Linked DNA regions of Homo sapiens. The protein of the gene in region 1 purifies or fractionates together with the protein of each later gene. This does not show direct contact. Each region holds a gene or a part of one and is shown in the gene's direction. Other genes may lie near its edges.

Region 1 (5,882 bases):
TAGAAATGGGTTTTTGCCACGTTGGCCAGGATGGTTTTGATCTCCTGACCTCATGATCCGCCTGCCTTGGCCTCCCAAAGTGCTGGGATTACAGGTGTGAGCCACCGTGCCCGGCCCAAGAGCTACCCTGTTTCTAGACCAGATGTCTCTTCCAGATTAGTTGGACAAGAATTGCAACACAGTCTTTTTTTGTTTTTGTTTTTGTTTTTCTGAGACAGGGTCTCACTCCCGTCACACAGACTGGAGTGCAGTGGTGCAATCACGGCTCACTGCAGCCTCAACCTCCTGGGCCCAGGTGATCCAACTCAGACTCCCAAGTAGCTGGGATTACAGGCATGTGCCACCATGCCTGGCTAAATTTTTTTGTATTTTTTGTAGAGACAAGGTTTCACCATATTGCCCAGGCTGGTCTCAAACTCCCGGGCTCGGGTGATCCACCAACCTTCACCTCCCAAAGTGCTGCAATTACAGATATGAGCCACCATGCCTGGCTACAACACAGTCTTTATTTACTTTATCCCCTGCCCCTCTGCATAACCACCACACACAACACTTCTCAGGGAAAGATTTCCTGAAAGTGGAGAGCTTGACTGAAGATTTAGAAAGCAAGCAGAGGAAAGGCTTGTACTGTAATAGCATGAATTTCTTAAAACTCAACAGCAGGCACCACCATTCTCTTGCACCCACCTAGTTCTAGTCTCTCTTTTTTTTTTCTTTTTTATTTTTGGAGAGACAAGTTCTCACTATGTTGCCCAGGCTGGTCTTGAACTCCTGGCCTCAAGTGATCCTCCCACCTCAGCCTCCCAAAGTGCTGGGATTACAGGCATGAGCCACTGCACTTAGCCCAATCTCTTTCTAATTGTTGATTTCTTTCTTCCCTTCCTTTTTTTCTTTTGTTTGCCTGACTTTTTTTTTTTTTTTTTTTTGAGATGGAGTCTTGCACTGCTGCCCAGGCTGGAGTGCAGTGGTGCGATCTTGGCTCACTGCAAGCTCCGCTCCCCGGGTTCATGCCATTCTCCTGCCTCGGCCTCCTGAGTAGCTGGGACTACAGGTACCCACCACCACGCCCGGCTAATTTTTTGTATTTTTAGTAGAGATGCAGTTTCACCCTGTTAGCCAGGATGGTCTCGATCTCCTGACCTCGTGATCCACCCACCTCGGCCTCCCAAAGTGCTGAGATTACAGGCATGAGCCACCGCACCTGGCCCACCTGACTTTTATCAAGAGCATTTTTTCTCTTTCTTGCTCGCTTGCTTTCTTTTCTTTTCTTTCTTTCCTTTTTTTTTTTTTTTTTTTTTTGAGATGGAGTCTTGCTCTGTTGCTCAGGCTGGAGTGCAGTGGCACAATCTCAGCTCACTCCAACTTCCGCCTCCTGGGTTCAAGCGATTCTCCTGCCTCAGCCTCCCGAGTAGCTGGGATTAGAGGCGCCCGCCACCATACCTGGCTAATTTTTGTATTTTTAGTAGAGATAAGGTCTCACTATGTTGGCCAGGCTGGTCTTGAACTCCTGACCTCAAGTGATCTGCCCGCCTCAGCCTCCCAAAGTGCTGGGATTACAGACGTGAGCCACCATGCCTAGCCAAGAGCATTTTTTTTTTCTCCTTGAATCATGAAAAGTAGTATAGTGGTATTTAATTGCGTGGGTTTCTGTCCATGAGGTCTCACTCTTCATCAAGCGCACACTTTTCAAACAAAGATGGTTCTCTGTCCTAAGAATATCTGGTTCTTCCTACCTCGACTTCTTTCTATAAATATTAAAGGTAAAAACTATGCAGTCTTAGCCCAGAGCTTGGAATGTTAATCTCCTTTCCCAAAAATGTAGAACACAGCACTAACCACTTGTGGAAGCTACAAAGATGAACAGTGCTTCTAACTATAAACAAGGCCGAATATGATAAAGGCTCTGTGATGATTGAGTGTCAACTTGATTGGATTGAAGGAGGCAAAGTGTTGTTCCTGAGTGTCTGTGAGGGTGTTGCCAAAGGAGATTAACATTTAAGTCAGTGGACTGGAAGGAAGTGACCCAGTCTCAATGGTGGGCACCATCCAATCCGCTGCCAGCGACGCTAGAAAAAGTAGGCAGGGCTAGGCATGGTGGCTAACACCTGTAATCCCAGCACTTTGGGAAGCCGAGACGGGTGGATCACCTGAGGTCAGGAGTTCGAGACCAGCCTGGCCAACATGGCGAAACCCCATCTCTACTAAAAATACAAAAATTAGCTGGGCATGGTGGCGCATGCCTGTAATCCCAGGTACTGGGGAGGGGGGCGGGGCGGGGGTGGTGAGGCAGGAGGATCGCTTGAACCTGGGAGGCCAAGGTTGCAGTGAGCTGAGATCGTGCCACTGCACTCCAGTCTGGGCAACAGAGCGAGACTCCGTCTCAAATAAATAAATAAATAAATAAATAAATAAATAAATAAATAAAAGTAAAAGTAGGTGGAAGAAGCTGACTTGCTGAAGTCTTCCGGCCTTCGTCTTTCTCTCATGCTGGATGCTTCCTGCCCTCGAACATCAGACTCCAAGTTCTTCAGCTTTTGGACTCTTGGACTTACACCAGTGGTTTGCCAAGGGCTCTCGGGGCTTTGGCCACAGACTGAAGGCTGCACTGCCGGCTTCCCTACTTTTGAGGTTTTGGGCCTTGGACTGATCCACCACTGGCCTCCTTGCTCCTCAACTTGCAGACGGCCTAATGTGAGACTTTACCTTGTGATCCTGTGAGGCAATTCTTAATAAACTCCCTTTCATATATACATTTATCCTATTCACTATGTCCCTCTAGAGAACCTAAGGCTCTAACAGCGACGTTCAGAGGATCTACAGATATCTGCGGTAGACACGCCCACGAAGTCGCCTCTGTGCCTACCTATCGGGTCCTGTGACCACAGGCGACCTCAGTCCCCGAACCATCTTTGCAGCTTCTCAAACGCACACCCCAGTGCCCTTTCTCGCCACAGGTGTGAAACTACATCTCCCGACAGGCGGCGTTGTCCCCTTCCTTCCTTCCTTCCTCTCCCAGGCCCGAGCCATGGCAACAGCGTGACGTGGGGGTACCGAGATCTGCGGGAGCAGCGGTCCCGGCTTCAGTTCTAGCCTACCCGGCAGCCTGGACGGGAGCAAGGCGAGAGGTGCTGCCGCCTCCCGTCGCCCCTGCGCTCAGAGGTCCCGAACCAGCCCAGCCGCTGCCTCTTGCCGCTCCGCCTTTGGAGTGAGGAGGGCGCAGCCCGCGTCAGAACTTAGAGGGCCAGGCAGGGTCGCGCGCATGGCCTGGGCGGGCTCGCGGCGGGTCCCAGCTGGGACGCGCGCGGCAGCCGAGCGCTGCTGCCGGCTCTCGCTCAGCCCGGGCGCGCAACCGGCCCCGCCCCCAGGCCCTCTGCCACCGCCGCGACCAATGAGGTGAGAGGGAGGTGACCGCGGCTGAGGGCAGGGGGTCGCTGCGAACCCCGGGGTTCCGCGGTGGAGGGGTGCTATACTGGGATGCAGGCGCGGCGGGGACTGGCAGCAATCATGCCCTGGGAGCTAACGTAGAGCTTTGGATAATGCTTTTGCAAGTTGTACGAGAAGGGAAGTTCTCGGGGTGAGTGTCCAACCTCTTCTTGGCCCTCGCGGGCGCCCTGGGGTCCCCGGGGACAGTGATGCTTCCTTAAAGTCTTAGCTTTCAGCAGTAGTGTAGGCCCAGTCAAAGGCAACTGGCGCTTCCCACACACCCCTTTTTCTCATCCCCCTCACCCCGCCCCCAGCCCTGTCCTTAGCTGCCCTCGACCTTTTGCACTCGTGACTCCCTGGCCAGAGAGAGCCTAGCGGGCTGCAGCAGGTGCTGGGGGGAAAGCTTGTTTGGACGACCTTCGTCTGGGATGCACTCTTCTTCTCCTTCACCTACAAATGATAGAGGATTACGAAGAACTATACGGTTGGCTCCTCTTTCCTTTGGCCTTAGGTTTCTGACCTCCTGCAGCCTCCTCTTGCCTCGGGCTGCCCAGATCTTGGCGGCTGAGGCTGGCTTACCTTCGAGCCGTTCCTTCATGGGATTTGCTGCTCCCTTCACCAACAAGCGAAAGGCTTACTCGGAGCGTAGAATCATGGGGTAAGCATTCTCTGCCTTGCATCCTTGCACCTCCCTTTTCCCTCCAAATAACCCTGTCCAGGCAAGAATGTCAGGGTATCATCGGTGGGCAAGATTCATCCCTAGCCATCCCCCTCCCCAGCTACAATACTGATCCTCAGTCCTCCCCTGCCACTCTTCCGACCTTAATTTCTCCCTTCTTGGTTGCTGTGCATGTGCTTAAGTGAAATGAGACTAGGGTTGGACTATACTTTAAGACAACAGGGCGTAGCTGGGTGCGGTGGCTCACGCCTGTAATCCCAGGACTTTGGGAGGCTGAGGCGGGCCGATCGTTTTAGGTCAGGAGTTCGAGACCAGCCTGGCCAACATGGTGAAACCCTGTCTCCACTAAAAAAAAACACACACACAAGAATCAGCCTGGCACGGTGGCGGGCGCCTTTAATCCCAGCTATTTGGGAGGCTGAGGCAGGATAATCGCTGGAACCTGGGAGGCAGAGGTTGCAGTGAGCTGAGATTGCCCCACTGCACTCCAGCCTGGGCGACAGAGCAAGACTGTCTCAAAAAACAAAACAAAAAACAGGGTGTATTTTTCTGGTGACCATTTAAAAATAATTTTTATGGGTACCTAGTATGTGTAAATTAGCAGCGTAACCTTTTTAGTATATTTTGAGCATAATAGCTAAATTATCGAGCACTTGCTACATGCTAGCAGCTTGACTTAGATGTTTTACATAGATATTTCTCATTTAATTCTCACAACAAACCTATAAATCAGGTGAGAAAATGGAGACACAGGTAATTTACCTAAGGCCACATTGTTAAAAAATTGTTAAGAGCTGGGATCTGATCCTTGTGTGATCACCAGTAAAACTGACAGCCTCTGTTCTCCCTAGATGGTCCCTCTTAAAATCAAAATAAACAATGAATGCAAAAGCATTCTGTAAACTGCAAAATATAAGGTAACAGTATCATAAGGATTTACACGTTTGCTTTTGGGAAGTTATTCATCCAGGCTTATTTGGGATCTGTAGTTCCTGAAGGTGCGTGGTTAGTGGGCAAAGGTATGAATTAGGGGCCTATAGCAAGGAGGAACCTGACCCAGCTGGCAGCTCCTTGGCCTGTGATTCTTCTTCTCCTAGGTACTCAATGCAGGAGATGTATGAGGTGGTGTCCAACGTCCAGGAGTATCGTGAGTTTGTGCCCTGGTGTAAGAAGTCTCTGGTGGTATCCAGCCGTAAGGGTCATTTGAAAGCCCAGCTGGAGGTTGGCTTTCCACCTGTCATGGAACGTTACACCTCTGCAGTTTCCATGGTCAAACCTCACATGGTCAAGGTGAGGCCTGTATGGGAGGGATTGACAAGATTTTTTGTTTTTAGCAGTTTCATATGAAAGTGCTATTTTGGCCTTCCTTGTAAGTACTTTATGTCCATGTGTCAAGTATTTCCCTCATATCAGAAAAGAAGGAAAATGGCTTTCAATTCCTTTATATTGTATCCTATACTTAGTAATGTTATTTAACTACCTGATTACCCTATTCTAGGCTGTTTGTACTGATGGCAAGCTCTTCAACCACTTAGAGACTATTTGGCGATTCAGCCCTGGTATTCCTGCCTATCCTCGAACCTGCACTGTGGACTTTTCGGTGAGTCAGGAGGTTGTGTAGCAGAGGACGAGGACTGGGTATGAGGAAGGGCTGGGGTACTGTGACAGGGTTATTAATTTATTTGAGATGGAGTCTTGCTCCGTCACCCAGGCTGGAGTGCAATGGCACGATCTTGGCTCACTGCAACCTCCACCTTCTGGGTTCAAGCGATTTTCCTGC
Region 2 (4,848 bases), on another chromosome or scaffold:
TAGGTTTTGTTGATTTTCTCTATTGACAGCATGTTTTCAATTTCACAAGTTCTGCTGTAATTTTTATTATTTCCTTTCTTCTGTTTATTTTGGATTTAATTTGCTCTTCTTTTTCTAGTTTCCTAATTTGGAAACTTGCTTTTAGCTCTTTCTTCTTTAATAATATATGCATTCAGTGCTCTAAATTTCCCTCTAAACACTACTTTAGCAGCATCCCATAAATTTTGATGTTATATTTTCATTTTAATTTAGTTTGAAATATTTTAAATTTTTTCTTGAGAGTTATTCTTTGATTTGTTTACATGTTGTTTAGAAGTGTGTCATTTAGTTTCCATTTTTTTAATGTTTTTCAGATATCTTTCTGTTATTGATTTCTAGTGATTCTGTTGTGATCTCAGTAATCTCCATCATAGAAGTCATTGATATTTGTTGTTGTATGTTTTATGGCACAGAATGTGGTCTGTCTTGATGAATATTCCATGTGAACTTGAGAAGAATGTGTATTCTGTTGTTGTTGGGTGAAGTATTCTCTAAATGCCAATTAGATACACTTAATTGATGGTGCTGTTCAACTATGTCCTTACTGATTTCCAGCCTGCTGGATCTATCAGTTAGTGGGTACTGGCCAGGCACGGTGGCTTACGCCTGTAATACCAGCACTTTGGGAGGCCGAGGTGGGCAGATCACCTGAGGTCAGGAGTGCGAGACCAGCCTGACCAACATGGAGGCTCTACTAAAAATACAAAATTAGCCGGACGTGGTGGTGCATGCCTGTAATCCTAGCTACTCGGGCGGCTGAGGCAGGGGAATTGCTTGAACCCGGGAGGCGGAGGTTGCAGTGAGCCGAGATCGTGCCACTGCACTCCAGCCTGGGCAACAAGAGTGAAACTCCGCCCCCCCAAAAAAAACGTTAGTGGGGACTGACAGAGAGGTGTTGATGTCTCCAACTGTAATAATAGTGGATTCATCTATTTCTCCTTAAAATTCTGTCAGTTTTTGCTTTACACATTTTAGCACTGTTGTTAGGCACATACATATTAAGGAGTATTATGTCTGCTGGGATAATTGACTCCTTTACCATTATGTAGTGCTTCTCTTTATTCCTAATAATTTTCCTTTCTCTGAAGTCTGCTTTATCTGAAGTTAATAGAACTACTCCATATTTCTTTTGATTAGTGGTAGCACGGTATATCTTTCTCCATCCCTTTATTTGTAACCTATCTGGTTTTTATGTTGAAATGGGTTTGTTGTAGACAACATATAGTTAGGTCACGATTCTTTATTCACTCTAGATAGTCACATGTTTTAATTGGTATATTTACACCATTGATATTTGAAGTGATTTTTTGATATAGTTGGATTAATATTTACCATATTTATTACTGTTTTCTATTTGCCCTTTGTTTCTTTTTTCTTCCACACTTTTTTCTGCCTTTTCTGATCTTAACTGAGCATTTTATATGATTCCATTTTCTTTTCTCTCTTAGCATATCAGTTTTACTTTTTTGTTGTTGCTTTTTTAGTGGTTGACCTACAGTTTGCAATATACACTTAAATCTAATTTAAGTCTGCTTTTGAATAACACTATACAACTTTATGGGTAGTGTAAGGGCCTTATTGCAGAGTATTCTTGATTCCTCCCTCCCATGCCTTATTATTACTGCTATCATTCATTTCACTTATCCATAAGCTACAATCACTGAATACATTGTTGCAATTATTATTTTGAACAAATTGTTATCTCTCAGATTAAGAATAAGAAAAAAAATTATTTCACATTTATTTCTAATACTCTTTTGTATGTTGAGTTTCTGACTTGTTTAATTTTCCTTTTTTTCTGAATTACTTCTTTTAACATATCTTGTAAGGCAGTTTACTGGTGACAAATTCCTTCAATTTTTGTTTGAGAAGTCTTTCTCCTCCACTTTTGAAGGACAATTTTACTGCATACAGATGGAATCTAGTTAGTTCTAAGTTGATGGAATGTTTTCAGTTCTTTAAATAATTCTTTCTATTCTATTCCTGATTGCATGGTTTATGAAGAGACGTTTGATGTAATCCTCATCTCTCTCCCTCTATAGGTAAGGTGTCCTGCCCTGCCTCTCCCTGGCTTCACTGAAGATTATCTCTGTGTCTTTTATTTTTTGCAGTTTGAATATGATATGCCTAAGTATAGATTTTTTGGGGGGTGGGGGGTGATCTTTATCCTATTTGGTTTCCTCTGAGCTGCTTGGATCTTGGTTTGGTATCTGTCTTTAATTTTGGAAAATTATCAGTCATTATCACTTCAAACATTTTTACTATTCCTTTCTTTCTTTTTATTCCATCTGATATCCCTATTACAAGGATTTACACCTATGGCAATTGTCCCACCATTCTTGGATATTCTGTTTTGTCTTTTTTATTCTATATTTCCCTTTGCATTTCAGTTTGGGAAGTGTTTGTTGATATTTCATCCATCTCATTGATTATTTCCTCAACTGTATCCAGTCTATTGATAAACCTATTAAAGACATTCTTTGCATTTATCACAGGGTTTTTATTTCTAGACTTTTTTTGATTTTTTTCTTAATTTCCATCTCTCTGCTTACATGACCAATTTGTTCTTATATGTTCTCCACATTTTTCCATTAGAGCTCTTAGCATTTTAATTATCATTGTTTTAAATTTTCCATCTGAAAATTCCAACATTGCTTCCATATCTGATTGTGGTTTAGGTGCTTGTTTCATCTTTGCAAACTGTGTTTTTGTCTTTTATATATCTTGTAATTGTTTTGCAGAAAATCAGATATAATGTATTGGGTAAAAGGTACTGAGGTAGATAGGCTTTTAGTGTGAGGTTTGATATTTACCTGTCTAGGAGTTAGAATGTGTTTACTATTTGCTATAGCTGTGGGTATCAGAGGATATAATTTTCTCTCTTCATCTTCTTGTTTTTGTCTACCCTGTTGTCTTTGGGTTTTTGTAGAAACTCCTTAAATAGGCTCTGGCTTGCAGTTCTCTTATCCGTAATCCCCTTGTTACTATACTGGAGCCCTGTGGATGTAGTAGCAAGGTGTTTTGGTGGGGGGAAGTGTTTTACAGTCCTACAATTAGGTCTTAGTGTTTCAGTGAGCCTGCACCCCTGGGCTGTGACCTTCACAAGTGTTTCTCAGTCCTACCCCTTTTAGGTGATGAGAAAGGCTAGAGGGGCTGGATTTGGGTTTTTCCTCATCACTTAGGTTAGTTAGGCCCTGGGTGTCCATTCACTTAGGCTCTGGTATAATAGTTTCTATGAGGGTAGATATGTTGAGAAAAAAATGACTGCTTTCCTTGCCTCCTGCCAAAACCAGAAGGGGATTTTTCTCCAATCCTTACTGTGAGAACTGTAAGAATTAAAGAAAGAGGAAAGAAATACAAAAGCTGGCTTGCCAGTTAAGACATTTATTTTAGAGAAAATCAACCTGAAAGGAGCCTTCTGGCCAAGTTAGGTCAGAGGCACACTCTCTTACAGACTGAGTTTTTAAGGATTCAGGATGGGAGAGTTTATCAGAGGCTTGGACTGCTTCTGTGTCTCTTTGTTGTGCTTATCTGGGAGGGAGAGTTGTGTGCCTGTTTTCATACATTTTTCCTGCAGCTGCAGGTATAGTCCCTGAGTCTGTTTTTACTTATTTATTGAGACAGAGTCTCGCTCTGTCGCTAGGCCGGAGTGCAGTGGCGCCATCTCGGCTCACTGCAACCTCTGCTTCCCAGGTTCAAGCGATTTTCCTGCCTCAGCCTCCTGAGTAGATGGGACTACAGGCATGCGCCACCACGCCTGGCTAATTTTTTGTAGTTTTAGTAGAGACGGGGTTTCACCGTGTTAGCCAGGATGGTCTTGATCTCCTTACCTCGTGATCCGCCCGCCTCGGCCTCCCAAAGTGCTGGGATTACAGGCATGAGCCACCGCGCCCAGCCAAGAGTCTGCTTTTAGCTTTCCTGTCTTAGTGCCCCTGAAGGAAAGGGAATGTGCTTGTTCCTTATTATTAAGGCCCACTGTTTTACTGGGGCCCATCGTATGAGGGTGAAGTTTGGCAGTTACCCAAGATACTTTCCCCCCACCTCCCTTTGTGTCCCAGCTGTCTTATCCGTGTTTTACTGTCTGCTCTTTCTGGCTGCTTGTAGTTAGAAGAGAAGTGATTTCCTTGAAATGCATGAGGCTAGAAAGGGAGCTGGAATTTAAAGTGGCGGTGTTTGTCTGAGATGACAGTACTCCTGCTCTATCATTCCAGACCCTATGGTTATAAAAGGACAAGAGGGGACATGTTCTTTCTAGCTACTTCCTGCTGATGCGGGGGTGGAGAGTTTTTTGGTCTTAGATTGACTGTAGGATCAACACCATTTGTAGATGTTTTTGGGTAGTTGCGAAATGGCCATGATTCTGTCGGTTAAAAATTTTTGATAAAGGTTAATTAGGCAGAGTAAAAACATTAGTCCTAGGCTTTTCAGCAGCATTTTTTATTAGGCCCGACTGGTTGAGACAGAAGTAACTTTTTTTTTTTTTTTTTTTAATGACAGGCAGAGGTGCATGTTTGGAAAGACCCATGTGTTATTTTTTGTTAGTAACTGTTATTCCTGCTATGAGGATAATAATTAAGCAAAATGCTACAGTAATTGAGATTCTCTGTCAGATATTCCACTCTGAGGGTTCACAGTCCTACTGCAAATAGTAGAGTGAGTACAGCAGTTCCCGCGAGGGTGTCATAGTAAATAATTTTCATTAAAAAAGGTTTTAATAGTTGGCTTAAAAGGAGAAGTAGAAACGACAAAAAGTATTTGGTGAGGTGGGGTTGAGACTGAGTAAGATGAGCAATTTTTACTTAGTTACTT

Evidence for each region.
Region 2: the proteins of COQ10A (region 1) and ALDH1L1 purify together in Homo sapiens (co-immunoprecipitation; one large-scale study listed by IntAct). This does not show direct contact.

Annotation. Positions count from the first base shown.
Region 1 is NC_000012.12:56,263,860-56,269,741, forward strand, and holds the start of COQ10A (coenzyme Q-binding protein COQ10 homolog A, mitochondrial), read left to right. Parts: upstream 1-3,082; 5' UTR 3,083-3,259; coding exon 3,260-3,393; intron 3,394-3,466; exon of another isoform or gene 3,467-3,536; coding exon of another isoform or gene 3,537-3,574; intron 3,575-3,934; coding exon 3,935-4,081; intron 4,082-5,199; coding exon 5,200-5,392; intron 5,393-5,600; coding exon 5,601-5,702; intron 5,703-5,882.
Region 2 is NC_000003.12:126,170,105-126,174,952, reverse strand, and holds part of ALDH1L1 (cytosolic 10-formyltetrahydrofolate dehydrogenase), read left to right. Parts: intron 1-4,848. UniProt on the Homo sapiens protein: Cytosolic 10-formyltetrahydrofolate dehydrogenase that catalyzes the NADP(+)-dependent conversion of 10-formyltetrahydrofolate to tetrahydrofolate and carbon dioxide.